Homo sapiens: one gene and its partners. The protein of the gene in region 2 purifies or fractionates together with the protein of the main gene of each other region. This does not show direct contact. Each region holds a gene or a part of one and is shown on either strand. Other genes may lie near its edges.

Region 1 (5,289 bases), on a different chromosome or scaffold from region 2:
CTGGTCAACAAGGTGAAACCTTGTCTCTGCTAAAAATACAAAAAAAAAGTTAGCCAGGTGTGGTGGCGGGCACCGGTAATCCCAGCTACCTGGGAGGCTAAAGCAGGAGAATCACTTGAAACTGGGAGGTGGAGGTTGCAGTGAGCCGAGATTGTGCCACTGCACTCCAGCCTGGACAACAGAGCGAGATTCCGTCTCAGGAAAAAAAAAAAGCACTGGGCATGGGCATTTCTGCCAGGTGCCTCAGTGGCCCTGAGGGCACTTGCATATAAACCAAATGACTTGATCAGTTTTGAGTCCCCACTGCCTTCTTCTTATACTCGTAAGTTCTCTTGTAAGGGGCCCCCATCATTTCTCTATTTTTCTCCCAGCCTCGTTAATTCCTTCCAAAGAGCCCTTACCCTTTGGCACCTCATTGGTCCCTGGGGATCAGAGCTGAGCTGGGGAACTGTGAGGTCAGAGAAGGTGGCACCTTGGCACCCACCTTAACCATTTGGGGCAAACTTCTCCCAGCTATTTGGTCCCTCTAGACCTTTTCAGACAACTGCCCTACATTCTAGACCGTTTCCATTTCTCCACACCAAAAATACAAATTAAATTTTTAAGATTTCTCATCCCTCGACCCTCTGCTGAATTCCTGTTCATCTGGCAAGTTCATCCATGTTACTGTGATAATGAAAAAATACTGAGGTAAGGTCACGTATCTGTATTTCTACACCAGCTTTGTGGAGATAATGCCTTAAAAGCACAGTCTAAATGCACCGCAACTCTAAGCAAGATATTTGGGGTGAAGAGGGGCATCTGTGCCCCTCAAATTATGTGGTTTAGGCAGCTACAATAGATGTTCCACCTTGAAAGCAACATACTGATCCATTTTGCACGCAACAGAGCTGGGCCCTGAAAAATGCTTGAGCCCTCAAATATGTTTATACCAGATGTGAGCCCTCATCAAAGTCAAATTTGACAACGTCATGCACAGTCACAAAACACAGATTCTCTTGCTTTTGTGTAAATGTGCATGTATTGTAATTAAAAAAAAAAAAAAAAAAAACAAAGAAATGGGCCAGTTAATGTGTGTTCATGATAGAAGACCCCAAATAGGAGATCTAAATGCATTGAACTCAGCCTGGGAATCAAGAAACAGATGAATTTATGTATATTCTGGATGGAAAAATAAAACTATCAATATGACCTAAACTTCTTTTAGGATAACTGCATTTGATTCCTTTAAGAAAATCAATAAGAAGAGATGCTATTCAAATAACCCTCCCTTGCTCAAAGAGCTGAGAAAACTTGGCTTTGTTCTCTATCTGGTCTCCACTTGGTATTTAAGGAAGGAACAGAGAGATTGGGAAACTTTAAATCATCCACATCTTGCTACGGGAAGTTCATTGGCATGTACACATGTCTGTGGGTGGGTATGACAAGAAAACAATAACTGTTTTTCTCATTCCTGACCTTTCTGCCCCATTCTTCTAAGAAAACTGTGGCTCATGAGGGCTTTCTCTTCAAACTGGCTGGATCACATTTTCCCTAGATCAAAAAGGTAAGTGTCTTGCCTTAAAGGGCCTATTTTTGTAATTTCTGTCTACTAGATATAAGCAAAAATTCTGTTTAGGTCAACAAAGCATGCAATTAAGCAAAATGGATGATGATGTCAATACAGACTTCAAAATCAGCATGTGCTTAGGGAAGAACTTCCCAGTTGAGTATTATTCCCTCCTAAACCTGAGAGCTGGCCAGAGCCACACCATCACAGTCATGATCAATATTCCTGGTTGTGTAAGATTCTCCCCCATACTATTTAATATGCTGTTTCTTCCCAACTTACATCACACAAAGCTACCTAAGCTTGGTTTGCTCTTATTTCATTGAGTACCTACTGTGTACTGAGCACTGGGATGGGTGTGTTAAACCTTTTTCTCTCTCTGACTTCTAACCTCCACCTCTCACATGGGACCTCATAGAACTTCTCACTTCTAACCCAATCCTCACAACAACCCACAGAGGGAGACAGCATCCCACTGTTACAGCTGAGGCAATGGAATGCCTTCAGAGAGGGTAAGTAACTTGCCCAAGGTCAACCAGCTACCAAAAAGCAGAACCAAAATTCAAATCCACATTGGCTGACTCCAAAGCCAGGGAAGGTGTGCCTCTTGTCTTCTAACAACACCCAAAGATGATGCCCTCAACTCACGTCCTTGCCTTTATACACCTGTCACCGCTTTCTGGCTACAGGGTTGGGGAATCTCATGACTTTCCTTATTCCCATCTTGAAAGGGTTGGGGCTAAAATGCCATTATGCCGGCATGCCTTGAGTTTGGAGGAGACAGATATTGCCTTAACCACAAACACACAAACACCAGACTCAGCCAGCTCCCCAGTATAACTAAGCCCTTCTCCAGGTAGAGACTGGAAACAAGGCCTGCCAAGGCAGAATCCCATCAGCCATTCCTCATGGGCCGAACACGCCTCCTGCCCCTCGGCTCCTTTCTCAGGGGAATGGCATGAGCCATTAAACAGGGTAACTGAATTCACTTTAGGCTATTTACGGTCTACTCCAGTCTATCCATGTTTCCAGCGAATTGCCTGGGTTATTCTCTCCTACCTGTCCTCTAGCTCTGACGCTTTTGCCAACAGGCAGCCAGAAGAAATAGAAGGCAAGAGGCCAACACCATGGCTTGGGAAATTTTAGGAGCTCCAGTCAGGATGAATATGGAAGCTATTGGTTGATGTGAGGTTTGGGGATGATCTCTATTTTCAAATATTCATAATACCTCTCCCTCAAGCTAGATAACTGCAGATCTCTTTACCTCGTTTTGATCTTCTCATGCTCTGCATTGCACACATAGTGAGGGGTTAATGAATACTCTTAGATGGATGACCGAGGGTGTGTGGCCACTTACAGGGAATCCTGTACAAGGCTCTGTCACAGCCGCTGTCTGCTAACTGTCCCACATGTATCTGTTCTGTTTTTTTGTTGTTGTTGTTTTGTTTTTGTTTTTTTTGATTTTTTTGTTTGTTTGTTTGTTTGTTTGTTTTGAGACAGAGTCTCACTCTGTCGCCAGGCTGGAGTGCAGCGGCGCGATCTCAGCTCACTGTAACCTCTCCCTCCTGGGTTCAAGCAATTCTCCTGTCTCAGCCTCCCAAGTAGCTGGGATTATAGGTGCACGCCACCACACCCAGCTAATTTTTGTATTATTAGTAGAGATGGGGTTTCACCATGTTGGCCAGGATGGTCTCGATCTCCTGACCTCGTGATCCGCCTGCTTCGGCCTCCCAAAGTGCTGTGATTACAGGCGTAAGACACCGCGCCCAGCCTCTGTGCTGTTAATGTCCTCTTACTTCTTTGTCCTCAGTCTGATTGTCTAACAAGTGCAGCTATCCACTCCGAACATTTCAACTGACAGCTGACATCAATACTGGCCATCCTGAGATTTATCTTTTCATATAAGAAAATATTATACTTTGGAGACCAGAGCTTAGAACGAACAAAATTGTTTTCTGGAAGTGCCATTATCACAGATAGAGAGCTGGGGCAGCCTCAGGCTGGTTCTAGCCAAGTTGGAAGAAGGTAAGAGTTAATGGTGTAAGAAAATAGCAAGAAGGCCCGTTGGGCAGGGAAAGTTCTGCGTGGGGCACAGTACTCAGCACCCGCGACCTCAGTGGAAGCAATTTCATTATCTTTTGCTTTCGAGGCCCTCTCCCTCTCTGAGGAGGCTCTCTGCATCTTGGCCTTTGGTGACCTCAGAATTTTCTGGCAGCCACTGGAACCAGGGATCATCTTTTCAGAAATCTGTTTGGCATCGTTCCGTGACTTATCTTTCAGCCCTCATCACAATTATTCATGCTTTGGCAGTATCCTAGCTACAGACACAGTACTCTTTTTGAGCTGATACTGAAGGTTACTCCGTCCCAGCCTATGGAGACGGAAGGCACCCACTCCTCAGGACCCTGACTCCAGGAAGCATGCTCCCTGTGAGGGCAGGTGCTTAAAGGCATCTATTCAGAAGCTGCTCTCAACCTCCAGCCCTTGTGAACAGGCAAATAGGTGAAGATAACACAAAACAGGAACTGGTCCCCAAATCATAGGCAATTTGGCTTTGGAATGCATTCCAAGGCACATTTGCTGTACACTTGTATGCACATTCATCCAAACTCAAATGCTAAACTCTACCAGCTGCCTCTGGACTACATAAAAACCCCAAACCTTTATCTCTTCATTAACGATGGCAAATATTTTCTGGCTTTACCTTTCTTCCCCACTTTAACATCCTGCTTCTATTCTGTGGCCTGCGCTTCCTGCTTTGTATATTTTAGATTACTTTAGACATGACCTCACATCCTGGCCAATTGCACAGTAGCTGCTAATTGCTAGAGCTCTGCTAATGGCCCGTACATCGATGAAGAATGAGTTACAAGCAGCAAAATCCAGAAGACAATAAGCTAGTGTGGTTTAGAGCTGGGGCTCTGGAGGGAGACAGATTTGGGTTTCAATCTCAGACTGTATGGCCTGGGGCAACTAACTTAACCTCTCTGAGTCTCTGTTATCTCATCTAAATGGAGATTATAGTAGCTCCTACCTCAGAGGGCTGTTGCTAAGATAAATACTGGATAATGCCTATAAACGATTTAGCACAATGTATAGCACAATGTAAGCTATCGTTATTACCATGTAGGCTTTCAAATTATGAAAGACCTTTCCTCCTCTAGAGTCTACATATTCCTGGGATCCTGCCCAGCTATTCTGCTCCATCTCTACCCTGCACCTGCCCAGCCCCATCCCCCTGACCAACCACTTCCTCCAGGTAGCATTCCTTGATTGAGCAAAATGCACACAATTATACATTTGCGTTTTCTCTCTATTGTTTTATGTTTTTCAAGTGTTTCATATGGATATTTACATTTTCCCCAATTCTCACACCAAGCTTCTCCAAGATCAAGAAGCCTTGCCTTCAGTAGTATCTTGGGTAGTGTAGACCCAAGAGCAACATCCCTAGTAAACGGCTAGATCTTCAGAACAAAATGTGGAGACTACCTTTTAAGTCGGCCTTTTGTGTCCTTTGCAAAATGGCTCTCTTGTTTATCAAAGTCTGTCTTGTACAGTAAGCGTATCAGAAGTCCATCTGAAGGAAGCATACAAAGGCAGGAAGCACTGACATTTCCCCCCACCATGAGGTCCCCAAATCCATTCCTTCCCCATCTGCCAAGACATTCATCCATGCTCTAGTTATTTTCCACATCACAGTATTTTCTAAAATTACTCTTTCCGGAGCCCTTCCTCACTCC
Region 2 (6,028 bases):
TGCTTGAGCCCAGGAGATGGAGGTTGCAGTGAGCCAAGATCGCACCACTGCACTCCAGCCTGGGCAACAGAGTAAGGCCCTGTCTCAAAAAGGAGGAGGAAGAAGAAGAAGAAGAAGAAGAAGAAGGAGAAGGAGAAGGAGAAGGAGAAGGAGAAGGAGAAGGAGAAGGAGAAGGAGAAGGAGAAGGAGAGGAAGAGGAAGAGGAAGAGGAAGAGGAAGAAGAAGAAGAAGAAGAAGAAGAAGAAGAAGAAGAAAAAAGAATCAAAAGACACAGATCAGCCAAAACAATCTTGGAAAAGAAAAAATTGGAGGACTCACATTTCCTGACTTCAAAACTTATTACAAGGCTACAATGATTGAAACAGTGTGGTACTGGCATAAGAATAGACATATATTGCAACGCAACAGAACTGAGAAACCAGAAACTGATTTCTGGATCAACTGATTTTCAACAAGGGTCCCAAGACAATTCAACAGGGAAAGAATTGTTTTTTCAACAAATGGTACTAGGACAACTGGGTATGTAAAAGAAGGGGCCCCTACCTCACACCATATACAGAAATTAATGCAAAATAGAACAAAGGCTTAAATGTAAGTGCTAAGTCTACAGCAAAATCTTAGAAATCATAGCTGTAAACTTTGTCTTTGGATTAGACAATGCTCTGTTAGATCACCCAAAGCATAAGGAACAACAACAAAGTAGATACACTGGAATTCACCAAAATTACAAACATTTTTTGCTGCAAAGGACACTATCAAGAACATGAAAAAAACTCACAACATGGAAAAATTATTTGTCAATCATGTATTTCATAAGGGAAGTGCAAATCATGTCTGATAAGGGAATTGTATAATGAATACTCACATCTCAATAACGAAAAGACAACCTAAATTTTAAAATGGGCCAAGGATCTGAATAGACAGTTCTCCAAAGGAAGTATACAACAAGCACATGGAAAGATGCTCAACGTCCTTAGCCATCGGGGAAACACAAATCAAAACCACAGGGAGATACCACTTCACATCTGCTGGACTAAAGACAGCGGTTGGTGTGCACACTGAGGAAATGGAACCCTCATACCCCGCTGGCTGCTGTGATTCCACTTGGAAAGCAGCCTGGCAGCTCCTCACAAGATTAAGCACGGTAGTCACCTACGATCCAGCCATTCCTCTCTTAGGTATAATGAAAACATATTGCCACACAAAAACTCATACAGGAATGTCCTTGCAGCGTTATTCGTAATAGCTAAAAAATGGAACAACTCACATGTCATCAGCAGATGAATGGATAAACAAAACTTGGCACAGCCATGCAGTGGAGTATTATTCAGCCACACAAAGGAATACAGTTCTGACGCAATCTGCAGCACAGACGCACCTTGAAAACGCTCACCAAAAGGAGCCCCCACAGAGACCTCCTGGCGTGTGACCCCATTTCCATGAACTTCCAGAACCTGCGGGGTGGTGGTTCTATGTGTGGGGGTGCAGGAGAGGGAATGGGGGTAGCTACCGATGAGAACAGGGTTTCTTTTGGGGGTGGTGAACACAACTTCGTTAATATACTAAAAACGAACTGTACACCTTAAATTAGGTGAGTTTTATGGTATGTGAACTGCATCTTAAGCAATTATTTTAAAAATTTAAAAAGCAAGCTGAGCAGCCTGGCCAACATGGTGAAACCCCATCTGTACTAAAAATACAAAAATTAGCCAGGTATGGTGGTAGGCGCCTGTAGTCCCAGCTACTCGGGAGGCTGAGGCAGGAGAATCGCTTGAACCCGGGAGGCAGAGGTTGCAGTGAGAGGAGATCGCGCCACTGCACTCCAGCCTGGGCGACAGAGCGAGACACTGTCTCAAAAAAAAAAAAAAAAAAAAAAAAAAAAAAAAAAAAGCGAGGTGCGGTTTCCAAACTGCAGATACCCATTGGGAAACGTGGGTAACACGGTTTTGAAATCTCTACTGCGTCTGTAATGGTAACACGGTCCTTGCAATGTGATAATGTCCCAATAGTTTATCTTTATAAACATTTTAAAACATTAACAAGCCTTTCTCCGCCTTTGTTCCACTTGCGCCTCTTTGCCCCTCTCCCCCGGGCTCCTCCTCCCGGCTGGCCCTCCCCGCTGAAGTCACGGAGGCGCTCAGCTGGCCCCGGGGTCTGGGTGCGCCCGCCCTGCCCGCAGCCGGCGAGGGGCCCTGGGGGGTCGGCGGGGCGGGTCCGGGGGAGGCCGCGGTGACCTCGGGGCGCGTGCAGACCCCGCCCTCCGCGCCTGGCCACAGATTCCAGCCCACCTTGGCGACCTGCGGAGCCGGGGGCGGAGAGAGGAGGCGCAGGAGGACCCGCGACACAGCTCGGGATCCGCGCGCGCTGGGCCTCCGGCGCCGCTCGTGGGGTTCGGGAGGCCGGGACCCTGCCCGGGAGATGTGGACGCCGGGCGGACCCCCGGGGTCCGCGGGCTGGGACCGCCGTAGGTTGGGCGCGAGGTTGCGCGCGGCGTTCGCGGGGCTGCAGGAGCTGCAGGGGCTGCGAGCCACGCAGCAGGAGCGGGTACGGGGCGCCCTGGCCCTGCAGCCCCCGCCCGCGCCCGCCGCGCCCTGCGGCCCCCACGGCCTCCACGGCCCCGAGCAGCAGCTGGAGGCGGCGCTGGCCGCGCTGCAGGAGCAGCTGGTAAGGACCGGGCGCCGGGACTCGGGGCTGCGAGGTGTGCGGGCCACAGGCGCTGCTCCTTCGGCAGCGACTGTGTGTTAGTGGGACGGGGGTGTCTGATGGATGGAGGGGACGTCCTTTGGGATTTGAATGGAATGCAGTTCGGTCTCCAAGGAGGGGGACATGGAGGCCCCGCGCGCAGGTGCCTAGAGGTGAAGCGCACAGGTGAGGACCCTGAAAACTGCCCGGGGCTGCAGCCCGCGCTCCGCCGTGCGTGGATGTGCGCCTACCCACGCCAGCATCCCGAAGCTGGCAGATTTGGGAGAGACACCCTGTTCGTTACAGGGTTACAGCACTGATCTGACCTGCAGGCACTGACCGGCGTTCCCCTGGCGGAGGTCGGCTCGGGATCCTGGCATCACTCCCCCCCCGGGGACCAGGTCCCCCCTGCTGTCTTGGGTTAGGGGCAACAGTGTCCGCGTGGTAAAGCGCACCCCGACTTGTCCTCAGGAATGTGCTGACTTTTCTTAAGGTCGCGTCACTGTAATAAAGTATTGGGGGAAAGCATGTAACTGACAAAGGCCTCTTCAACTTTAAAATGTGACCTGACCTGTAAGGAGAGGCGTGTCCTCTGATCCAGAGGAGAGAGACTCTGATTTCCCTGCCACGGGCCCTCTTCAGCACTCCCTGGGCGCTCTGAACCCCTCCTTTCACACAATGAAAGGAACTCCACTCATTACCCCTCTGCTTATTATGTTATTGTATGATTTTGTTAAACTTACTGGAAACAACTCACAAGCGTTTTCGTAGTTGCTGTATTTTCTTAAAGACAAACTAAAAAGGCTGGAGAAAGATATGTTTACTTGTGTTACCTCTGTTACACTAAGTGAAATTTCTTTTACATTAGAAATTTAAGTCTGTCCTGTTAAAAGTTACTGCCTTTAAATGTTGCCCAGGTGAAGCTGCGGCATGACCGTCTGCCTCGCTCGCTCAGCCAGGTTGTTAACATAGCAAACCCTTCTGGATTAAAGAATCAGGAAGTCCAGTGTCTGGGACGCCTCCCAGGTTCCCCGTTATCTCCTGACCTTGTGGAAGACGGAGGTGGTAGACTGTGTGGGATTAACCTGGGCCCCCAACTCTGCCCCTGATGCCTCCTGAGAGGAAAGTAGCTGGTGTACAGACTTTGTTTACTCACCCAGTGACCAAATCCTGGCCGTCTGTTTAGGTCGTTTGTGTGTTTGCACCAGACACAATCGCAGCCTCTGTGTGACCTCAGCTCAGCACACGACAGCCACAGACGTGTTACACATATGTGATGGGAAGGGAGGTGCTGCTGAGATGTTGTGTGTTTGCACCAGACACAATCGCAGCTTCTGCGTGACCTCAGCTCAGCACACGACAGCCACAGACGTGTTACACACATGTGATGGGAAGGGAGGTGCTGCCGAGATGCTGTTGTGTGTTTGCACCAGACACAATCGCAGCTTCTGCGTGACCTCAGCTCAGCACACGACAGCCACAGACGTGTTACACACATGGGAAGGGAGGTGCTGCCGAGATGCTGTTGTGTGTTTGCACCAGACACAATCGCAGCTTCTGCGTGACCTCAGCTCAGCACACGACAGCCACAGACGTGTTACACACATGGGAAGGGAGGTGCTGCCGAGATGCTGTTGTGTGTTTGCACCAGACACAATCGCAGCTTCTGCGTGACCTCAGCTCAGCACACGACAGCCACAGACGTGTTACACACATGGGAAGGGAGGTGCTGCCGAGATGCTGTTGTGTGTTTGCACCACACACAATCGCAGCTTCTGCGTGACCTCAGCTCAGCACACGACAGCCACAGACGTGTTACACACATGGGAAGGGAGGTGCTGCCGAGATGCTGTTGTGTGTTTGCAGCTCAGCACACGACAGCCACAGACGTGTTACACACATGGGAAGGGAGGTGCTGCTGAGATGCTGTTGTGTGTTTGCACCAGACACAATCGCAGCTTCTGCGTGACCTCAGCTCAGCACACGACAGCCACAGACGTGTTACACACATGGGAAGGGAGGTGCTGCCGAGATGCTGTTGTGTGTTTGCACCAGACACAATCGCAGCTTCTGCGTGACCTCAGCTCAGCACACGACAGCCACAGACGTGTTACACACATGGGAAGGGAGGTGCTGCCGAGATGCTGTTGTGTGTTTGCACCAGACACAATCGCAGCTTCTGCGTGACCTCAGCTCAGCACACGACAGCCACAGACGTGTTACACACATGGGAAGGGAGGTGCTGCCGAGATGCTGTTGTGTGTTTGCACCAGACACAATCGCAGCTTCTGCGTGACCTCAGCTCAGCACACGACAGCCACAGACGTGTTACACACATGGGAAGGGAGGTGCTGCCGAGATGCTGTTGTGTGTTTGCACCAGACACAATCGCAGCTTCTGCGTGACCTCAGCTCAGCACACGACAGCCACAGACGTGTTACACACATGGGAAGGGAGGTGCTGCCGAGATGCTGTTGTGTGTTTGCACCAGACACAATCGCAGCTTCTGCGTGACCTCAGCTCAGCACACGACAGCCACAGACGTGTTACACACATGGGAAGGGAGGTGCTGCCGAGATGCTGTTGTGTGTTTGCACCAGACACAATCGCAGCTTCTGCGTGACCTCAGCTCAGCACACGACAGCCACAGACGTGTTACACACATGGGAAGGGAGGTGCTGCCGAGATGCTGTTGTGTGTTTGCACCAGACACAATCGCAGCTTCTGCGTGACCTCAGCTCAGCACACGACAGCCACAGACGTGTTACACACATGGGAAGGGAGGTGCTGCCGAGATGCTGTTGTGTGTTTGCACCAGACACAATCGCAGCTTCTGCGTGACCTCAGCTCAGCACACGACAGCCACAGACGTGTTACACACGTGATGGGAAGGGAGGTGCTGCTGAGATGCTGTTGTGTGTTTGCACCAGACACAATCGCAGCTTCTGCGTGCCCTCAGCTCAGCACACGACAGCCACAGACGTGTTACACACATGGGAAGGGAGGTGCTGCTGAGATGCTGTTGTGTGTTTGCACCAGACACAATCGCAGCTTCTGCGTGACCTCAGCTCAGCACACGACAGCCACAGACGTGTTACACACATGGGAAGGGAGGTGCTGCCGAGATGCTGGCTTCAACTGTTCTGTCAAGGGGGTGGGAGTGCAGGTGATGATTAACTTGGCTTAAGAAATATACAAATCAAACTTGCAAGCGCTCAGTCTCTAATTACAAGTAGCCTTTTGGAAGAGAAGATCAAACAGATTTTTGTTTATTTTATTATTATTTTTTAATGTGGGGACCAGAAGGAACACGCAGACTTTGTTTTGAAACTTTGTTCTCGGGACA
Region 3 (3,500 bases), on a different chromosome or scaffold from region 2:
ATACTGACAGCCCAAACACAGGATTTAAAAAACACTAGGCAGAATACAAGTGTACCTACATAAAAATGAAGCCACATATAAAGTAAATACAACCTATATGTAGTAGAGTTATTCCCAAAAAAGGTCTGCTGAAGGTTAAGTAACCAAACCACGAAAATATTTTCCTTTCTACACACCCTAACCTGTAGCCTTCATGATCCCTCTAGGAGCCTGAAAATCTGTCATAAAACCTAATTTTATGCCACTGGAGGGGCTCTTATTATAAAAAGGTAACTTATATTGACTACATTTTAAAGTAAGGCATTTTTTTTGGTAACAAAAGGTCAAGGATAAACTTTGAAATGAAACAAATTTTGTTATCTTGGCCCTAGAATTTGGGACAGTGAACACTAAAGCAAGTAGAAGGCCAAGTAGAATGGTAAAGCAATGAAAAAAATTAGACCTTATATGGAAAAGCCAAGAAACTTAAATTGCTTAGCGTAATGAACAGATGCACTGATAGATACTAGAAAAGATGACGACCTGGAATACTTTTCTTGAAATGTGCTGCAAGGTGATATGGTCTTGACCTCAACCAAGTGGACAGCAGCACTGAAAGGAGGCAAGTCACATTCATGGCTTGTACCTGCATGGTCTCACACTGGCTCTGAATTTGTTAATTATGTAAGCTCTCATTATAGTTTTAAGTTCCTGATACCCAAACTATGACTTTATCCACAGAAAAATGTTAGATTTTGATTAGCAAACCAAATGAAAAGAGAGGAGTGCCCTTATTATATTAAGAATGCCATCTTTTTGAGTTGAGCAAATTGGTGAACATGGTTCAAGAAATAGAAAAACATTTAATATCTCAGAGAGCAAAATGTAATGACTTTCTTGGATCTAGAAAATGATTGAGAAGTTCAGACAGAACCCATAAAAAGAGTGACTGAGAAATGACACCTTGAACATAAACTATATAAAAGTTGAAAGGGAGTATCAGAAAAGAATATTAAAGCAGCTAGTGATAAAATTATTAAGATGATGAAAAACTTTATGATATTAAAGACCAAACAAAGGTAAAGATCAGACAATATTAAAGGAGAGCCAGGCATGACAATGACAAAGTGAGTTCAGGTTTGAGTTACACATTGGCATAAAGGAAGACTGTATCCAGAGTGGAAGTGTTTGATTCAGAAAGATGAGAGAGGAGAACAAGATTTGTCTGAATAACAGATGCTATTAACATAGCCTGAACTCATTAATGTCACCTCTCTCTCTTTGGGATAACACTACAAGACAAAATCTAGAGACATATGCTATAAATATAATTGTTGGATGGAAAGCAAAGAAAAACTAAAAAGATGGATGGTATTCAGATATAAATGTTAGTCCTTTCATGTTTCAGAGAAGGAAAGGGACAGCTTAACAGACAGGTTAATTTATGAAAAGCACAGCGAAGTAGAATATATTCTTGAAATAAATTCCATTAAGTCAAGGAAAAACTGTGCTAAGGACACTATATCTTCTATGAATGCTATAGCTGTCAAACTTTAGGGTGCATCAGAATCACCAAAAGCAGGGGGCGACAAACCATAGCCAAATTTGGTCTGCCACCTGTTTTTGTAAATAAAAGTTTTACTAGAAGACAGCCCCTCCATTCATTTATGTGCTGTCTATGACTACTTCCGAACTAGAACAGCAGAGGTGACCTAGCTGTGACAGAGACTATATGGCCTGCAAAGCCTTAAATATTTACTATCTTGTTTTTTACAGAGAAAAGTCTGGCCTATAGGGCTTGTGAAAACAGAATTCCTAAGAAAGGATTTTAAAAAACAATTATTGGACCCTACTTGCAGTTTTTGATCCAGTAGGTCTGGGGTCGGCGGGAGGGGTGCTAGTCTCAGAATTTGCATTTCTATCAGTTCCCAGGTCATGCTTGTGCTGCTGGTTTGAGGGCCACATTCAAAGGAATTAAGGAATCTGGTGAAGATTATTCTCTAGATAAAGTAAACATGGAGATGGAGAAACCTTCTCTAGAAAGAAATGGCCTAAGAAGTGTATAACAAGAGCCAACAGCATTAGCTACTAGAGCACATACAAATGCAAATTCACAAAAGATTGTGATTATGTCACTAGGGAAACTCCAGAATAAATTAAGAACATTCGAGCCTAGAGGCACGGTAAGGCTGAATAGTCAGTCAACAGCCATACTGCTCAAGACAAGTACAAGGGTGGGTTTTCTTTCAAAAGCCACAAGAAGTTATGAACAAAGAGTGATGTAATCAGACTTGCATTTTTAAAAAGATCACCTAATTGCTCTAGCTAAAATGTTGATTTAGGAAGATCAGTCAAGACAAAACCAATAAACCAGGCAAGAAATGATGGTGGCTTGGAAAACTACAAAAGTAAAAATGAAGATAAGCCAATGGATCTAGATTTATTATCGAGGGACTGAATGGATAAAAGCGATGATGGAAGGATAAACAAGATCCACAAGTTTCTGATTTCAGCAACTGCATGGCACTTAGAAGGAGATGGGATAGATATATGTGAGAAGATTATGTTTGGTTTTGGAGTACTAAATTTGAGATGCTAGTGAACATGAAAAGAGAAAGTTTCAAAAAGGCAGGTGGATATAAAACACTGGAGTTCAGCAAAGGTATGAGCTAGAGAGTTTAGTGTCAATAAATTACACCTTCCTTTAAATCAAGTTCAAAGACAGCAGTGAATTTAAAAGATCAATTTGAAATTTATTTAAACTCTTGGGCATTAGTTGAAAGCATGGCAAAAAACTAAACACTTAAAGAAAGCATGTTGATTTTTTTATTTAAAAAATTACCTGACATATTTTCTCCCAAATTTCATCACATCCAGCTTTTTCTTGAAAGCTAAGGGCCAAGTCATAATTTTCTGCTTCAGACCACACAATCAGAGTGTCCTTTGGAGACATAAAAGGAGTCTGAATGATTAACATACACTATCACAAACGAAAATGAACAAACAAAAGGAAATAAAACTGTGCTCATTTTTACTTTTTGCAACACTAATACTGGCAATTATCAATGTCTTTCTTTTTCAAAACAATGACTTTTTACACTTCACTTCCCCCAATCTATAAAACAAAAATAATGTTTCCTTAAGGACAACTTAAACCAATATATGAAATATATTCTTTTCATGCATTGCAAAAGATAAAAACAAAACATTATACCAATTATACCAACGCTATCCGAGCATACTGACTTACATTTTATGCTGTCATTAAAATGTCCAAAGAGGAAATCTAAGCATAAAATAGCTAGGGCATGTTAGGACGATAGGGTTAATAAAACTCCTTCTCTCTTCCCTCTATTGTCAGCAGGTGTTTTTCACCAGGGGCCTCTGAGGTCCATGAAGCCCTTGAAATTATTGGCTACATTTGTAGTACGTGAGCATTTACCTATACATAGGTTTTTTTGTTTTTTTTTTTAAACTTAGCAAAGTGCTATGGTTCAAGAAGCAGCAAACTCCTAGCACCT
Region 4 (5,289 bases), on a different chromosome or scaffold from region 2:
CTCTTTCACACACAAACATTGTAAGGGAATGTGTTTCTCCTTGGTGATCAGGAATGTCTGCTCATTTGCCCTACTCAGCTTCTCTAACTTCTCAGCAGGACACCTGCTTAGGGCACTCATCTTGTGATGGGCCATCATCCACTTAGCTTCCTAACAGCCACTCATGTCCTCTTGGTCTGAGCAAACCTGCAATGCCCCAGGGGTCTCATGCTCCCTGCCACCTATCTTTAGCACTCCTATTTCCAGACCCTGCAATGTGCTCCCTGGTTCTTCTGCCCCCACGGGCCTGCAGGAGTGTTTCAGACATTCTTGCCAAACTCATCCAGGAGCAGAGCAGCTTGCCACAGACGGGGCTATCAACCACAAGTCCCATAACCTCCACTCGCCAAGGAGTGTCCTCGGCCCACATCAAGCATAAGGGATGGAGTGCCTCTTTCAATTTTCTAATCAAGTATCTTTCAAAACTCCCCACAGGCATTTAACAAAAGCTGTAAAGGTAAACTATGTATGAATCAGGTATCTGTCCCTTCTTCCTTCACAATTATTTTCTGCCTCACAAACATGTTCTGTGATAGACTTTAACTGTATCTCAACCTAAGATCAACACAGCCAGATGAATGCTCGCCTTGCTCCATAACTGTCTGCCTGTTACACTTCTACGCTCTACACCTACAAATCTGGAGATTTTATTTAACCAATTTAAAAAAGCCCAAAACCATTTATTTAAAAAAAAAAAAAAGGAGGATAAAATCAAGTAAAAACAAAACAAAACAAAAAACACAAGGGGCTCTATGGGGTGCCCATCTTGTCCCGAATTGACCATCGCAGGTACCTGGATGTTGCTGGAGATGTCACCAGTCAGTGCCACGTGCAAAACGACCAGGGGCTCCCCAGGGGTCGAACAGTGAGAAAAGAAGTAACACCTTCTGTAGGGCCCAACGCGGCGCTTCATGTCCATCCAGTTTTTTACAGGATGCACAGCCTCAGCCCTGGGGCGGAATTTATAAAGAGACAAGACAAATGCATAATTCACAAGCAACGGCTGCTGACTCCTATTCATACTATTCGTCTAAGTCAAACAAGTTCTTTAAATAGAGCTTTAATGGACTCTTCTGGAAAATTCAAAGAAAGTCATTTTCATGAGAAACAGCACCCACTGAGAGGAACTACAGTGAATGACCATTTTACACACAAAATTGTGCTCCAGTTTTAACCCCAGTTTTAAAAGGAGTTTGTGAGGCTCCGGGGAAGGATTCATGCAGATTTTAACGTGAAACCTAATCAAACGCTTGGTGTTGAACACTGTCTTTTCTTTCCTTGGGATCTCTGTGAAGCCGTCAGTGCTGCAATCAGGGGGCTCATCTGGTGTCTTCCAGCAATCTCGCCCCACCGCTATTTTGTTTTCAGCATGTGAAATGGCAGCAGGCACTGTCAGCCCTTTGAATTGAATTGGTTACATTTCAAATAGGACACTTTTCAAACCATGGATTCCATGGGACAACATGTAATGTGAAGATGCCTACGTGCAAAGGTAGTGAAGGCACCGTGACATGCTAGCCTGTGTCATACGGGTCCTGGATGTAACTAACACATGATATAGTTTGTTTAGAGATTTTAACTCAGGGAGAAATCTTAACCACCAGGTGGGCTAAATACTGTTTTGATTACGAATGCAAACGCTTGGTCCAGTGAGTTTCTACAACTCTGATCACGGGGTCTTGGGACGAGCGAAAATGGGTGTGTTTGCTTTAAATAAGAGGACACAAATAAGACCTCACACGCAGGTCACTGACAGACATATCAGTTTCTCTTGGTGCCCTTTCGTCTTCCTCCATAATCTTAGTATCATGTGTGGTGACAGCCGCAGCATTTGCAAATACTGTGTTTGGATTTTATTAGACTTGAAATAAACTGTACATATGAATGGAGATAGATTAGCTTTTAGCCAATATAAAACATACACAAATATATATGAAAAATGTATGTACAAAGAAAATGAAAACCGTAATACTTACTCACTGATTTTCTGAAGCACTTCACACGGTGAATGCCAGGTAACCCGTTCTAGGTTCAGGAACCCGGAGGAAAACCATTCTGAGAGCATTCCTTTCAGCACCCCATTCATTTCCTGAAAAGGAGAAGATAAATCCCAGGCCTCCAATGTGCGACAGATCAAGCCCATCTCTGTGTTGTGGTCAGCACAAGGAATGAAAACACTCAAGCACGATACATAAGACAATTGTGCAAGACAACTCTCCAAACAGCTTTTCCCAAGATTCCTCTGTCAGACATCTTATCTCAAACCAAGTCAGGCTTTCTTTCGTTCAACGCTCTATTTAGACTTAACTACTTCAGTCTGTTAAGACCTCTGAAGGAAACAATTCAATTTGAACTAAGTTGCCCAAATCAAATAATATCTTCCAATTCGTTCACCATAGTGAGCATACTAATCATATAAAATCAACATAACAATGAAAGATGCACTGTAAGGGAAACACTAAGACAGCAAGGGTGTCAACAGCACTGTCCTCATCCTCTCGGGAACCTTCTTTGATACGTCAAAACATTACGCCTACATTTCCTAAGAAAGACAAGTACTTGGTTCAGGAACCCTATTTCATCAACTCAGAGATGTACATTTTCATATTTTAACATCTCTCAAGTCAGGATGCATCTTTCGAATGATGGCGGGTCACAGACTAATTGGCAGCATTTTTGTTTTAAGAGACGGGGTCTCACTCGGTCACCCAGGCTGGAGTGCAACAGCATGAACACGGCTCGCTGCAGCCTTGACCTCCTGGGCTCATGTGGTCCTCCTGTCTCAGCCCCCCAAGTAGCTGGGACTGCAGGTGAGCGCCACCAAGCCTGGATAATTTTTTTTTGTCTTTTTTGTAGAAATGGGGTTTTGCCACGTTGCCCAGGCTAGTCTCGAGCTCCTGAGCACAGGCAATCTGCCTGCCTCGGCCTCTCAAAGTGCTGGGATTACAGGCGTCAGCCACTGTGCCCCGCCGTAACTGGCAGCATTTTTAACCTACCTTAGAGGGACATAAAATAATAGCGTATCTGGCAACCAATGCATTTCAGAGTTGATGAAATTATCCTAATTTTGCCTCACTTATTTATATTGTATCTACTTCCAAAAATGATGTGAATTGACTTGACCACCCAAGATACATCTGCACTGAAGCTTTTCCAGCAAGAGCAGAACACAAGGCCCTGAGCAGGAGCAGCGTCGCCTCGGTGCTGCCTGCACAGCCACAGCTTGTTGTTCCCCGATGGCTGTACCCCTTTTCTTTCAAATTAACAGAAGCCTCACTTTTCAGCTAGGGACACAGCTGTCCAGAACAAAGATTGCACTGCGGCTGGGGGCAGCCATGTGACAGAGTTCTGGTCAATGAGGGGTAAGCAGAGGTCTCCTGCAGCCACTTTGGGGAACTTGAAAAGACAGCAGGAGCAGGCCCTTGGCCCATCTTTTTCTTTGTCCTTTCCACTGCAGACTGGAAGGCGGTGTGATGGCTGGCATTGGAGCAGCCATCCTGGGCCACGACGTGGCTTTGGAGATGAAGGTTTTTCTCGGCAGAGCAACAAGATTCAAGTCTGAATCCACCAAGAGCACCAAAGAGCAGAATCAGCTCTGGGCTGCCCACCTCTAGACTTTCACATGACAGACAAACTTCTGTCATATTCAAATCACTGTTATTTTGGGTCTTTGTTACTCATAAACTACATAGTAACAGATCCACTGAACATTATTATTAAATAACAGTAAACATCTCAGGACATCTGATACAAGAATGACCTTCTGAATCTCTCTACAAGGGTCATAAAGAACACAATGGGCAACACCTATAAGAATGGCTTTACAACAGCTAGAATTTTTTTTTTTTTTTGAGAGATGGAGTCTTCCTCTGTCACCCAGGCTGGAGTGCAGTGGTGCAACCCTGGCTCACTGCAACCTCTGCTCCCTAGGTTCAAGCGATTCTCCTGTCTCAGCTTCCAAATTTTATAAAACAATTTTACATTTTAATCCCTGTTAAAGGGTGAAAGGACTCAGAACTTTGACGCCTGAGAAAGAGTTGCAGGTTTTGGGGTGATGGCTCAGAGAAGTTTTCGGAAGGAGATGAGGTCTCCTTTTACATGTTTAAGCACTAGGGCACGAAAGAGGCCACAAATTTGTTCTGTGTGACCCCATGGGGGCCGGGGAAGGAAATCTAGGACTGACTGGTGGAAGTCATGGGCAGTCAGATGTGGACTCAATTTAGTGTAAAGAGGAACTTTTGAATAGCTGGAGCTGTCCACAGAGGTCATCCTGGGAGACGGTGACCCTCAGCACTGGAAGCCATCAAGCACAGGTGGACAGAACTCAACGGAGCTGTTTGAAAACGGATTTAAGCATTAGATAGACAGCTGGACCAGAAGATCTTTGCAATTCCTTTTAACTCTACATTCCATGACTCAATCTCCTTTACTTGGTTGTAAACGCCATAAAAGCAGGATCCACTTCTGATTCATTTTTATAGTTCGCAAAGCATTCACTAATAGATTGATATCAAATGAAAAAGATGGAAAAATGGAATGAATCGTGATTAGGAAGTAGCAAGAGGGCAGGATGAAAGAGATCATTTGCTAGGTGACACAGAATGGCCCTTTGTAAAACTGTACTTTCTGCATTTGACTATAGCAATTCTTAATCTTCCTGGGATCCTCTCACACTCTTACGTGCTAAAAACCATAGGCCCTGCCCCCAAAACACTGCAAATACATTAGTAAAATTGTGCATACGTTTTCCTGGGGTACATGGACTCCTCTGATACTTATCTATGGACCATCCCAGGGGCCAGGAGGGCTTCTGTACCCCAGTTTAGGAACGGATGAGCTGAGCTCTGCGTAAGAGGTACTGGTATCTGTCTTACATTCGTGATATGAAAAAAGCTGGAAATACCTAGTTTTACTATCAATTTAATATTAATTATGAAAGAAATGGTTTGGCTGATGAAAGCTCCTCCCCTACAGATCTCTTCATTCTATTTTGGGCTCCTGACAGCTACAAAATGTGACACTGGTACACGAGAACTGGGAATCCAGGCTAAAGGTTAGAAGTCTCCGTTGCTCAGTTCTAACACCGGCAGCAGCTGTTCAGGCTGGGATGAGCCACAGCACGCGGCAACGTTGCCAGGATACAAACACCACCAGGGAAAGAGGCCTCTGCAACTGTACGTGCGTTAATTCAGGCACCATTTATCACCAATACAAGACTGAGAAACACAACTGCGGGGAATATCCTGGTGA
Region 5 (5,289 bases), on a different chromosome or scaffold from region 2:
CCAGGTGTTGGGGGACCTGACGCCTTACCCTGAGCAGGTTCCAGATCTCTTGGCCGCAAGGCTCTGTCCCTCCCCACCCCTTCCCCACTGCATGCACTACCTGGAATGTGTTGGTCACTGCCACTGTGGCATGGCTGCCCCCAGCCTGCTTGTCCTGGGTGCTGAGGGTACTTGTCCCACAGTGGCTGGGAGCCCCCCACCCAATGCCTGTGGACCAGACCAGTTTTGTCACCACCAGTGGGGGCTTAGGAGGCGTTGCTCCTGGGTGCTGGCTAAGCTGCTCCCAGGCTTACCTTAGAGCCTGCTGCTTTCCCCCAAAAGCCTACTGACGACACAGCCCCCGTCTGCCCTTCCCGCTCTTTCCAGCCTGTTGGATGGCTCCTGTTCTCTCAAATCTCACTCTTACCCCCAGGAGGCTCCCTGCAGGCAGAGTGGATGAAAATATCCTGCCCCTTGGTCTCTGAGGCCCTGGCCCACCTGGGGCCTTACAGAGCAGGACAAGGAGGCTCCACTCCAGCTCTGTCCCTGCCTCACTATGTGACCCTGGGCAGGCTGCTTGCCCTCTCTGGGCCTCTGACCTCATCTGGAAAGTTCCTGGTTATGCTGCGACACACAGGGGACTGGGAGTGGGAGGAGTGGTGTCTGCCAGGCACAGCAGCTCCAGGCATGCTGGCTCATTCACATGGCCCCATCCTGCCGATCACTCACCCATTCATTCACTCAGCCCACCATGGTCACTGGACATCTAGTCCACGTCCTGACACACGCCAGGCCTGTGGGCTACGCCTGTAAATGGACCAGGCCCGCCCTGCCTGCATGGAGCTACCGCCCAGAGAAGGGACACAGTAAATAAGACCTGGTGGCACCTGCCAGAGCGGCTCCTGGATACAGCTGGGAAGAGAACGGGGTGGGGCAGTGGGCGCCCCTTCCTGCACACACCCCTCTCTCCTCAGCCGCTCTGGGGCCTGAGGCCCTCTCTCCTGGTCCTCCTGGCCTCCCACGATCCCACAACGTTCCAACTCCTGCCCAGCCCTGCCTGGAAGGCTCACCCTGCCACACTCTTGCCCATGCTGGCTCCTCTGCCGGGAGTGCCCTTCTTCCCCTTCACCTCAGACCTCACAGCCCAGCCTGTGCCTCTTTCCTGACTCCCCCAGGCAAATGGGCCCCCTCATAGAGCTCCCGCATGGCGCGTGGCGAGTCCTCGCTGTGACAGACACAGTGCCGGCCCCTCTGTTGTCACCAGCTGCCCGGAAGTCCTGCCTTTGCTTTCTAGCATCCCTGAGGGGCCTGGCCTGACAAGGTACAAATCACCATTTTTAAAATTGTGGTAAGATAGACAGAAAACTTCCTTTTTTAAAGCTGAACACTGTTGCGTTGTGCAGATCGACCACATGTTTGCCTTTTTTAATTACACACATTTCAGCGGCAGTAAGTGCATTCACAGTGCCGTGCAGCCAACACAGCATCCATCTCCAGAACTTCACTTTCCCAAACAGGGCTCTGTGCTCTGTAAGCGCAGACTCCCATCTTGCATCCCCAGCCCCTGGCACCCACCATTCTGCTCTCTGTCCCTGTGAATATGACTGCCCTGGGGATGTCATGTGAGTGGAATCAGACAGCATTTGTCCTTTCCTGACTGGCTTACTTCACTTAGCCTCATGTCCTCAAGGTTCATCCCTGCTGCGGCAATGGGCAGAACTTCCTTTTTAAAGCTGAACACTGTTCCATTGTGCGGATGGACCACATTTTGTTTGTCCATTCACCCATTGATGGACACTGGGTTGTTTCTGCCTTTTGGCTGTTGTGAATAGTGCTGCTGTGAACATGGGTGTGCAAATACCTCTCCGAGTCCCTGGTTCCATTTCTGTTGGGTGTATACTCAGAAGTGGGATTGCTGGGTCAGATTGTGATTGGATGCTGACTGTTTTGAAGAGCCGCCATACTGTTTTCCACAGCAGCTGCACTGCTTTACCTTCCCTCCACCACTGCACAAAGGTCCTGGTTTCTCCACATCTTCGCCATCACTCATTACTTTCTGTTTTTCTTTAATAATAGCCATCCTAATGGTGTGAAGTGGTATCTTGTGTTTTTAAATTTCCCCCTCTTGAATAAAAGTGTGAGTGATGAAGTTTAGCTTACAAAAGGGATGGTTACGTCTTTGTTGTTTTTCAAATATAGTCATATAACTGAGAGATTATTCATCCACATGGTACAAAAAAAGGCTGCACATATTGTCTATTTGGTTCCCTTGCTTCTTGTTCTTCTGCCCAGAGGCCACGGCTGTGTCCAGTTCCTTTGGGTCCTTGGTGAATTTCTGTGCATTTATATGTGTGCTTCATCATTGAAGTGCTCCCTCAGCAAGCTGGTGACACAGAGCAGTTTAGTTTTCCCACCACTGTTTTGTGGTTTCTGGATTTGAGCCAATGAAACGCTCAACTTGGGGGATGTGTGACCAGCCGGCCCCTGCAGGAGGTGGTGGTCTCCTTCCATGGGAAGCCCTGGCCAGCTGCTTGCAGTGGGGCCTCCATGAAGGAAGCCAAGCCCTGTGTGTCTTCCCCAGGCAGGAGAAGGGAGGCTGGTGGGACTGGGCCTGAACATTCCAAGATGAACACCCCCACACATCTCCAGGAAGCCTATGCGTCAAGCCTTCATCATTGTCACCTTAGCTGGCTCTCCGTCCAGGTCAGTCCTGGGCACAGTTATCAGCATCTCTTTGACAGTGGGCCCCAGATTCAGGCAGAGCTGCCAGAGGGCATGTGGGAGCAGGGCCAGCCTAGGTTGTGCAGGACAGGCCCCCACACCAAGAATCCACACAGATATTTATGGGCATGAAAATCTGCGAGCAACTATCCGAGTCTGGTCCTCACTCCTCTTGACATCTAAACCACAAAATGCATTTTGTATGATTTGAATATGCATTGAGTTTTCCAGGAATGCAACTGCTCTCGCAGTCGAGGGAAGATCAGACTCTGATATGTTCGGAGCTCAGCCAAGAGCTGCCACCATTCAGAGCACCACATCACCAAGGACAGCATCTCTCATGGTGCCAGAGTGCCCAGTGAACTCCAGCATCCATCTGGGTTTGTGGTCGCTGTCACACGACCAGGCAGGTGACTATAGGGTAGGCCCACCCACGATTAACATGACAAATTACCGTTTATTTTATTCTAAATTATTTTCCTCTTTTTTTTTCTCTGTAATTTTACCATTCAGCCATTCTCTTGGTTCTGTTTTAAATATGTGTGTGGATGGATCACATGAGTCATCAGCTTCATTTGAGAAGAGAGAAGAGGATAGTGCAAAGCTCTGGATTTAAGGAGCGGGGTGCTGGACAAGGGATCTTTGTGGTAATGGAGCTATTGTGTATTTTGACTGTGGTGGCACTTGTATGTGCCTGTATGTGTGTGCATGCGTGTGTTTAGTTCTATGCAGGCGTATCATGTATGCAGGCTCCACGGTACAAGCAAAATCGGAAAGCTACCTAAGATGGGAGGACAGTGCAGTGTCAGAATCCTGGTAGTGATGGATCCTATAGTTTTGTAAGATGTTACCATTGGGGGAAACGATGTATATAAGATCTCTCTGTATTGTTTTTTGTTTTTTTTTTTTTTACAACTGCAAATGAATCTACGATTATCTCAAAATAAAAAGTTTAATTTTTAAAAGGTGAGGGTGGGTATCAGGTCTGACAGGCTGAGATCCCTGGTAATTGAGGACAGCAGACAGCCAGTGACCTCCCAGTCTCAGTTCCTTGGTGGTGCACCATGGTCACCAACCTCTACTGCCCTCCACTCCCTGACACCTGAGACACCTTGGGCCCTTCTCTCCAAGGCTGCATCCCACCAGGGGCACTGGGGCCGGCCCCTCACCCCAGAAAGGAAACACAAGTCCCTTTTGCTGCCAGCTGGGGCCTGGCTGGCCCCCAGGGGTTCTGAGTTTCAGACCCTGCTCTGCCAGCAGGCAGTGGTTTCAGCTGGCTGATGGAGCAGAGGTCTTATCCATTGTCCCCCAATGCCTCCCAGAACCGGGGCCCCAGCCCCAGCCCAGGCCTCTTCTCAGGTGGGCCTTCCTGCTCCCCTGGGCTTGCAGAACAGCCCTGCTGACGGCCACTCCTGCCCTCCTCTGCCCTGTGCCCGCAGCATTCCTGATGACACAGTCACCATGCTTGTCTGTGCCTCCTGCCACCACAGTGGGCAGCTGGGACAGAGACAAATAACATTCCATCAAATGCCATTTTGAAGACAAAAATGGACCAGTCAACTAAAGCTAAAAGGTTAAGGGAAGGAAGCAAGTACTTTTTATGACTTTGTCATTCTACAAATTGACTGTTCTATGAATTAGCTTTCAGTGAATTGACTTGTCACTGGTTGAAGGAAAGCTGGGACATGGCTGGTGAGGTTGTGGGCAGGACTAGGGCAGTGAACAGGGCAGTGGGGAAGCCAGGCTGGGCGTGGTGTCGGCTCTCTGAGGGGCCAGGCTTTGCCCACTAGACTGCCCAGCCCAGGAGTCCCGGCTCTCCCTCCCCTGTGCATCCCATTTCCTGAGCATGAGCTTGGGATATCAGGGCTCTGAGGAGCTGGGGCTGCGCCAGAGATGCCCGTCCCCCTTTATATCCCATGGCGTGACCTTGCCACACTGGCCCGACCTCCGAAGGATGAAGGTCCTGTCAGAGCAACCCCTGTGGCTCAGCAGGCGGCTGACCTGAGCGTGGCTAATAGAAAAATGTTTTATTGGCACCGATGGCTTCATCCCTCATCAAGATGTCCCTGACATCTGCTTGGCATGGTTACTAAGGGAAGTGATGCATCTTAAATCACCAGGGCCCTGGCTGAAATTCACTGCCTGTATCTTAAGGCTCTCATTGGCCCCACGATAACACCGAGCGTTTTCCTCCCATTTGCTCTCCACCATCAGATAAAAGAGAAATGCCCTCAAGTCTCTCCAACCCCCTTCCTTGTTCGGGTGTCTGTCCCCTGGCCATCTCTGGGCTGCAGAGAGGTCAGGCCACCTCAGAGGAGCTCTCCAAGACCAGGTGAGCTCAGCAGATGTGGGGTCCAAGATCTGGGGGTAATCAAGACCTTTCTCTGTGCCTCCCCTGCCAGGACCCCACCCCTCTCCAAGGAGCTGCTCAGATGGAACTCCTTATGTGCTGCCCAGTGTCTGTGTGACTTGGGGCAGAAGACAACCTCTCTGAACCTATTTCCTTTTCTGTAAAATGAGGCTAATAATTCCAGCTTTGCAGGGTGGCCATCAGGACAGAATGAGGTAATAAGGCCTGTGGTATCTCTG
Region 6 (5,289 bases), on a different chromosome or scaffold from region 2:
AAGCATGTGTACAGTGCATTTTAAGTCAAAATTTGGGGTGTTATTGGCTAGACACAGTCATTTCTTTGCCAGAGATACTAGGCTGTGTGAAGGCTAACCATCTGTCAAGTGATAGAGACAAAGAAAGGTTTTAATATACTAGTCTAAAATTTCCACAAACTTGTTTTGAATGGTATTGTCATTTTCTTTTGGCCTTCATACTCTGTGTTGAATATGCACTGGGTCAGTCACCCTACTTTGTTTTATGAACAAACTATTCAAGGTCCAGATGAGGTTATTGTCACAGCTGATGTGATCTAGAGGCAAGATAAAATATGTTTTGATTTTGCTTTCATATAATCAAAAACTCACAGTGGGCCACCCACTAGTAGTTACACAAATGGTTTCAAGTGTACTTGTTTTCACCCACCCATTCTGAATTTTGGGTGTCTTAATTATTTTGCTTTATGTATTCAAGCCTTGTATTTCAAACCCATTCCTGAGCTGTTTGGGGGAAGAAAAAGTAGCAACAGGAATCCAGATTGCCTGTTTTAGGTACAATATGGTGTGATGTGAAATTGAAACAGCAGATTGGTGAGAAACTTTAGTTTCAAACAAATATAAACTAGTTTGTTTAGTGAAGTCATACACAAAACAGTAGTCTCTATTGACAGGGCAATGTTTTTTTCAGTGATTCCCATATCATGAGGTCACTTTTGTTCTTTGGGCCAACAGTCTGTTTTCAAGGTGTCATATAAGAAAAGCACTAAATACTGCTGATTGTAATGATATACTTACATATGGCAGCACAAGAAATTATTTATAGCAGTGCTAATTATATCAATAAAAATAGCAATATTAATACTGTGTCAAAATCCATTCTTGACAGTATGAGGTAAACAGAACTATAGTCAAACAAAGCAGCCAGCCTGTCTTTACTGTCAGCTCACAGATATGCACTTTAAGAAAAATATACACACAGTTTAGAGAGTTGAGTGTACCAATTTAATCTCTTTTCAATTACTTTTGGCTTTTAAAAAGATGTTCTAATTCAACATAATATTAAAAAGATTTTGATTTTTAATTTTGAAACTCTTGGTACCCATTTTCTTACTGTCATTAGTAAGTTTCTAGAAATGTATTTGTATTTCACTGCTTTATAAATTATCAGAAATTCATTTTAGTGTGCCCTCATTTTGGAGCACAGATTACCATTACAAAAGGAAACTATTAATAGAACAATCTCTAACAATTTACAAAACAAAACAAAACAAAGACCCCTACCACCACCACACACACATACACACTCTCTCGCACTCACACACATTTTCAGTAAATCTCAGGCTTCCTTTAGACAAAAGAAAATGGCCTTTTCCATGGTTTTGATTTAAGATAAAGCATAAATTTTGTTTGTAGTTTTCATTACTTCTAACGAGTTTTTACAGTTTTATGCTATTTTAAATGTGTCGTCTTAGGAATATAAAATTAAGTAAGTAGAAGTAATTACATCCAAAGATTTTTAACTTGGGGACAATATCTACCTTTTCAATCTCTCATATATTAAATTCAACTCTTTGTTATACATTGTCAAAAATCTCAGATGTGAAGTTAGTAGAGGTTGTTCTAGTTCTACTGCGGCCATTAATTAGTTACATGATCTATGGCATGTTGCATAATCTATGCGGATCTCCACCTTAGCACCTTAGATTTTTCATTTTTAGGGTCATTTTCAGTTCTAATCATCTGAGTTTGTTTCCTTCAACAATTGAATTGTTATTTTAGCTTCTGGTAGTGTTACTGAAACTGATGCTTAGGACACCTAGAAACAGTATATGTAAAATACTTGACTTTGCTTTCCACTTTTAGTCTTTTATAAAAGTTTAATTTTAATGATACATGCTTTCTAACATAGCACACTAGTAAAGTATAGATATATGATATTAAGTACTTATAATCTTTCATAGTGGGTAAGTATAATAAATCTATTAGTTTACATAAATACTTTGCCAACTCATCTTAACTCAGGAAGGTGTATTGCTAATAGAATTTGTAAACTTGACTCTGCATTTCATGCAGCATAAAGTTGTTAAAATTGAGGATGCAGGTAACAACAGAATGAATCAACTCACATTTTTCTATTTCTATAAAATCTATAGATAGATACATTTATTCAAAGATAAAAGATAAATTTGGTTTTGTGATTCTCTTCTCTAAGCAAAACATAGGTATACATTGAGTAATCAGGAACCACCTCCATGCAGATCTTATAAAATTGGTAATTTTTAACTACTGCATTTAGTTTTTGATCTTATATTATATCCATGCACAGATAGATTTACATAGGAAGGAAGATAAGGTAGGCAAAGAAATCTGACTAGGAAAGAATCTGTTAGAAAAGACTTTGCAAATATTGTCCTGTTATATATTGAAAGAAACAACTATATACAATTTCTATATACCTACTTGATATATCTTTAATGATAACCTCAAAGTTCTAATTTAAAATTTTACTCTCAGTTTCTGTTTAATTGACTCATCCTTTTTGCTAGTATGAATGGTAGTGAAAGGCTTAAAGCTATCTAACATTACCTTAGATGGAAACAGCAATCTGCAGGAAGCTATACTATCCTGAATCCTCTCATTTCCTCACATCCACCCACAGCTCCAGATGTTCCTGGTACTGATCATATAATATTTTATAAATCACCTCGTAGCCAAAATATACTGTCTGTTAGATGATGGTAAGCTATTTTAGCTTACCAAACATCTAGCTAATCAGGAGAAATTGTAAGAATAATTTTAGATCAATTGTTGGACCCAAAAGGTGGTATGAATGCTTCAATGCATGCAAATAATGGAAAAGATATTCTAAATGTGCTTAAGGGAAGCTGGTTTTAGTGTTAACTGAAACCCAGTATACATATTGAAGAATCACTGTAACTCTTCTAAAGCCATGAGTACCAAAAAGACTAGCAAAATTATTAGTGGGAAGCACAGTGAAAAGTAAATGCATTCTATCCTTGTATTAAACAGGAATACTAATCACACCACCAACACCAATAGTAGCCAACATTTACTGAGATCTTACTTTGTTGCAGTCATTGGTTATATCTGCATTTTTTCAGTTAATTCCACAATCCCGTGAGACAGGTACCTTTATTATCCCAATTTTAAAGATATGCGAAGGCTCAGAAAGGGTAAGTATCTTGTTCAAAGTCACACAGCTAAGTATAAAACACATGGGAAATTAAACTCAAGTACAGCTCTGGAGAACCTAAGCTCTTAATCACCACCCCATCAGACCACTATTCTGGGACGATTTTAACTCAGTGCTTGCCCAGATTAATAATGGCAATTTTATTTCAGAAAGGCATAGATTTGGAGAAGGTTCTAGAGAAGGGTACAAGGTGAAAGAGTTGTAAGTAGGAACAATGGTTGCTGTGATAGAATCTTTTTAAAATATAACTCTTCAGTCTAGAATTAAAAATGATGATAGAGAATTTGTCTAAAGGTTGTACAATGAATAGACTCTAACTGCTGCCTGATTTAGTTCTATTTGCAACAGTGGAGCTGGGTACCATGTTAAAGCAGGCCTTGGAAATCATGGGTAGGAGCAGGACAAAGGAAGTATTACTGAAAGTTCTGGGAAGGTAGAGGTCAAAAAGGAAAACTAAATCAAACCCGACTGAATAACCAAGAACCAGGTATCATGCAGAAATAGGGGTGAGGGAGACTAGAAACAGTATATTCAAAGGGTAGCAAATCCTATGACTTTGGAAGGCTTTTGTGTTTGTTTGTTCTTTGTGCCCTTAACATTTGTTTCAGAAACCAATAGCTGGCTTAAATATGGGTCACTGAGAGTTTCGAAAACAAAGACTGCTATGCTTTTGGCACAAAAACATGATCATCAGTCCTAACCTAGAGTTAGGCAGTAAGTTTAAGTGCATGACAAAGATATGCAATGTAGCACAATCTGTGTGGTAAGCCATTTATTGAATGCCTACTGTGTGCCACCCAATTTGGAAATCACTGTTCTAGGAACATTTATAATCTACATTGTTGTTTGCTGTCCAATTTTCAAAAACAGGAAAACATCTGTTAACTTTCTTGAGGATGTGATGGATATGAGGGGTAAAATATTATATACCTTAATTTTGTTTTATTTATTATGGAATTTAGCTTTTGTCTCCTCCTTCCCATATTCATGGAATTTTAAAACAGCCTCTACTATGCTTTGAGTGGAATACAGTCTAGACTTTTATTATGTACTTTAACTTTTCCTTGATTTGTCACTATACTGAAAGAAAGATTTAATTTTATCTGATAGTGTAAATGCATTTCTATCAGAGTAGTAGTCTCAAATCAGTTCAGGTAAAGTCAGTGTACATGACTTTGGATTATATTTAGTATAGTCAGCATGCATGAATTAAAAGGAATTATAGTAACCTTTAAAGTGAATTTTTATTGCAGATAATTTAAATGACCTCCAACCAAGTACTTCTGTCATGTATACATACATACTCATATACCCTTTGTATACAAGGTACTAAAAACTTAAAAAGTTTTCAAAAGATAATGTTTACTGTTAAGCTATATTACAAATATAAGCTGTATCATCTGAATGCAGTCAAAGAATAATGAAATTGCTATACCATCCCTTATGTGTCTTTACTGTTCCTTATGAGAATATCTGATATTTTCTTTATTCTCTTATTTTTAATGCATTAAGAAGTATAGTATAATAATCATTTTATATAATTCAAATGGATACATCACTGAAAAATGTATTTTAAAGTTAGAAAAATTATCAACATTCAGTTAGTGCATGGCACCTTTCTCCTCAAGTTCATCATCGGTGGTACTCTGTTGTTCTTGTAATTTTGATAGCCTGTGGGACCTAGTGTTCTTAACAGCTATGTTGTTTGTATCTCACTGTCCTTTATACATCTGACCCTCAGAGAAATACCTTTGAACACTCATGTTTTTAATAATCTTTCTTGTTTTAGAAAGGGATTGAGAGCAAGGCAATACTGTGTTAAAGGGGTCATTTGAGCTGAAAAGCAGTATGGGAAAAATGAACAAAATTCTAGGTTCTTCTGATTCAAATATTCTACATTACAGTCTCAACATTTGTTGTTAAGCGAATTACCAAAGTGTATAAGAGCCAAAAATAAATGGTTGTTTCTGTCATTTGGGGTATGCATTACTCTGTTTCTGTCTTATATGTGTAATGATGAGTTTTATAATGCACAAATGGGTGCATCTGGTGTAAAGTGAGTTTGATTCAGTGTGATGTTTTATATGCAGTTT

Evidence for each region.
Region 1: the proteins of DACT2 (region 2) and SEL1L3 purify together in Homo sapiens (affinity purification with mass spectrometry; one large-scale study listed by BioGRID and IntAct). This does not show direct contact.
Region 3: the proteins of DACT2 (region 2) and PPP4R3A purify together in Homo sapiens (affinity purification with mass spectrometry; one large-scale study listed by BioGRID and IntAct). This does not show direct contact.
Region 4: the proteins of DACT2 (region 2) and MLYCD purify together in Homo sapiens (affinity purification with mass spectrometry; one large-scale study listed by BioGRID and IntAct). This does not show direct contact.
Region 5: the proteins of DACT2 (region 2) and IQSEC1 purify together in Homo sapiens (affinity purification with mass spectrometry; one large-scale study listed by BioGRID and IntAct). This does not show direct contact.
Region 6: the proteins of DACT2 (region 2) and ZBTB20 purify together in Homo sapiens (affinity purification with mass spectrometry; one large-scale study listed by BioGRID and IntAct). This does not show direct contact.

What each region holds. Positions count from the first base shown.
Region 1 is NC_000004.12:25,855,563-25,860,851, forward strand, and holds part of SEL1L3 (protein sel-1 homolog 3), read right to left. Parts: intron 1-5,289.
Region 2 is NC_000006.12:168,316,024-168,322,051, reverse strand, and holds the start of DACT2 (dapper homolog 2), read left to right. Parts: upstream 1-2,274; 5' UTR 2,275-2,418; coding exon 2,419-2,664; intron 2,665-2,695; exon of another isoform or gene 2,696-2,868; intron 2,869-6,028. UniProt on the Homo sapiens protein: Involved in regulation of intracellular signaling pathways during development. Negatively regulates the Nodal signaling pathway, possibly by promoting the lysosomal degradation of Nodal receptors, such as TGFBR1.
Region 3 is NC_000014.9:91,482,811-91,486,310, forward strand, and holds part of PPP4R3A (serine/threonine-protein phosphatase 4 regulatory subunit 3A), read right to left. Parts: intron 2,921-3,500; coding exon 2,822-2,920; intron 1-2,821. UniProt on the Homo sapiens protein: Regulatory subunit of serine/threonine-protein phosphatase 4. May regulate the activity of PPP4C at centrosomal microtubule organizing centers.
Region 4 is NC_000016.10:83,903,826-83,909,114, reverse strand, and holds part of MLYCD (malonyl-CoA decarboxylase, mitochondrial), read right to left. Parts: intron 2,129-5,289; coding exon 2,016-2,128; intron 990-2,015; coding exon 833-989; intron 1-832. UniProt on the Homo sapiens protein: Catalyzes the conversion of malonyl-CoA to acetyl-CoA.
Region 5 is NC_000003.12:13,062,324-13,067,612, reverse strand, and holds part of IQSEC1 (IQ motif and SEC7 domain-containing protein 1), read left to right. Parts: intron 1-5,289. UniProt on the Homo sapiens protein: Guanine nucleotide exchange factor for ARF1 and ARF6. Guanine nucleotide exchange factor activity is enhanced by lipid binding. Accelerates GTP binding by ARFs of all three classes.
Region 6 is NC_000003.12:115,136,538-115,141,826, reverse strand, and holds part of ZBTB20 (zinc finger and BTB domain-containing protein 20), read left to right. Parts: intron 1-5,289. UniProt on the Homo sapiens protein: May be a transcription factor that may be involved in hematopoiesis, oncogenesis, and immune responses. Plays a role in postnatal myogenesis, may be involved in the regulation of satellite cells self-renewal.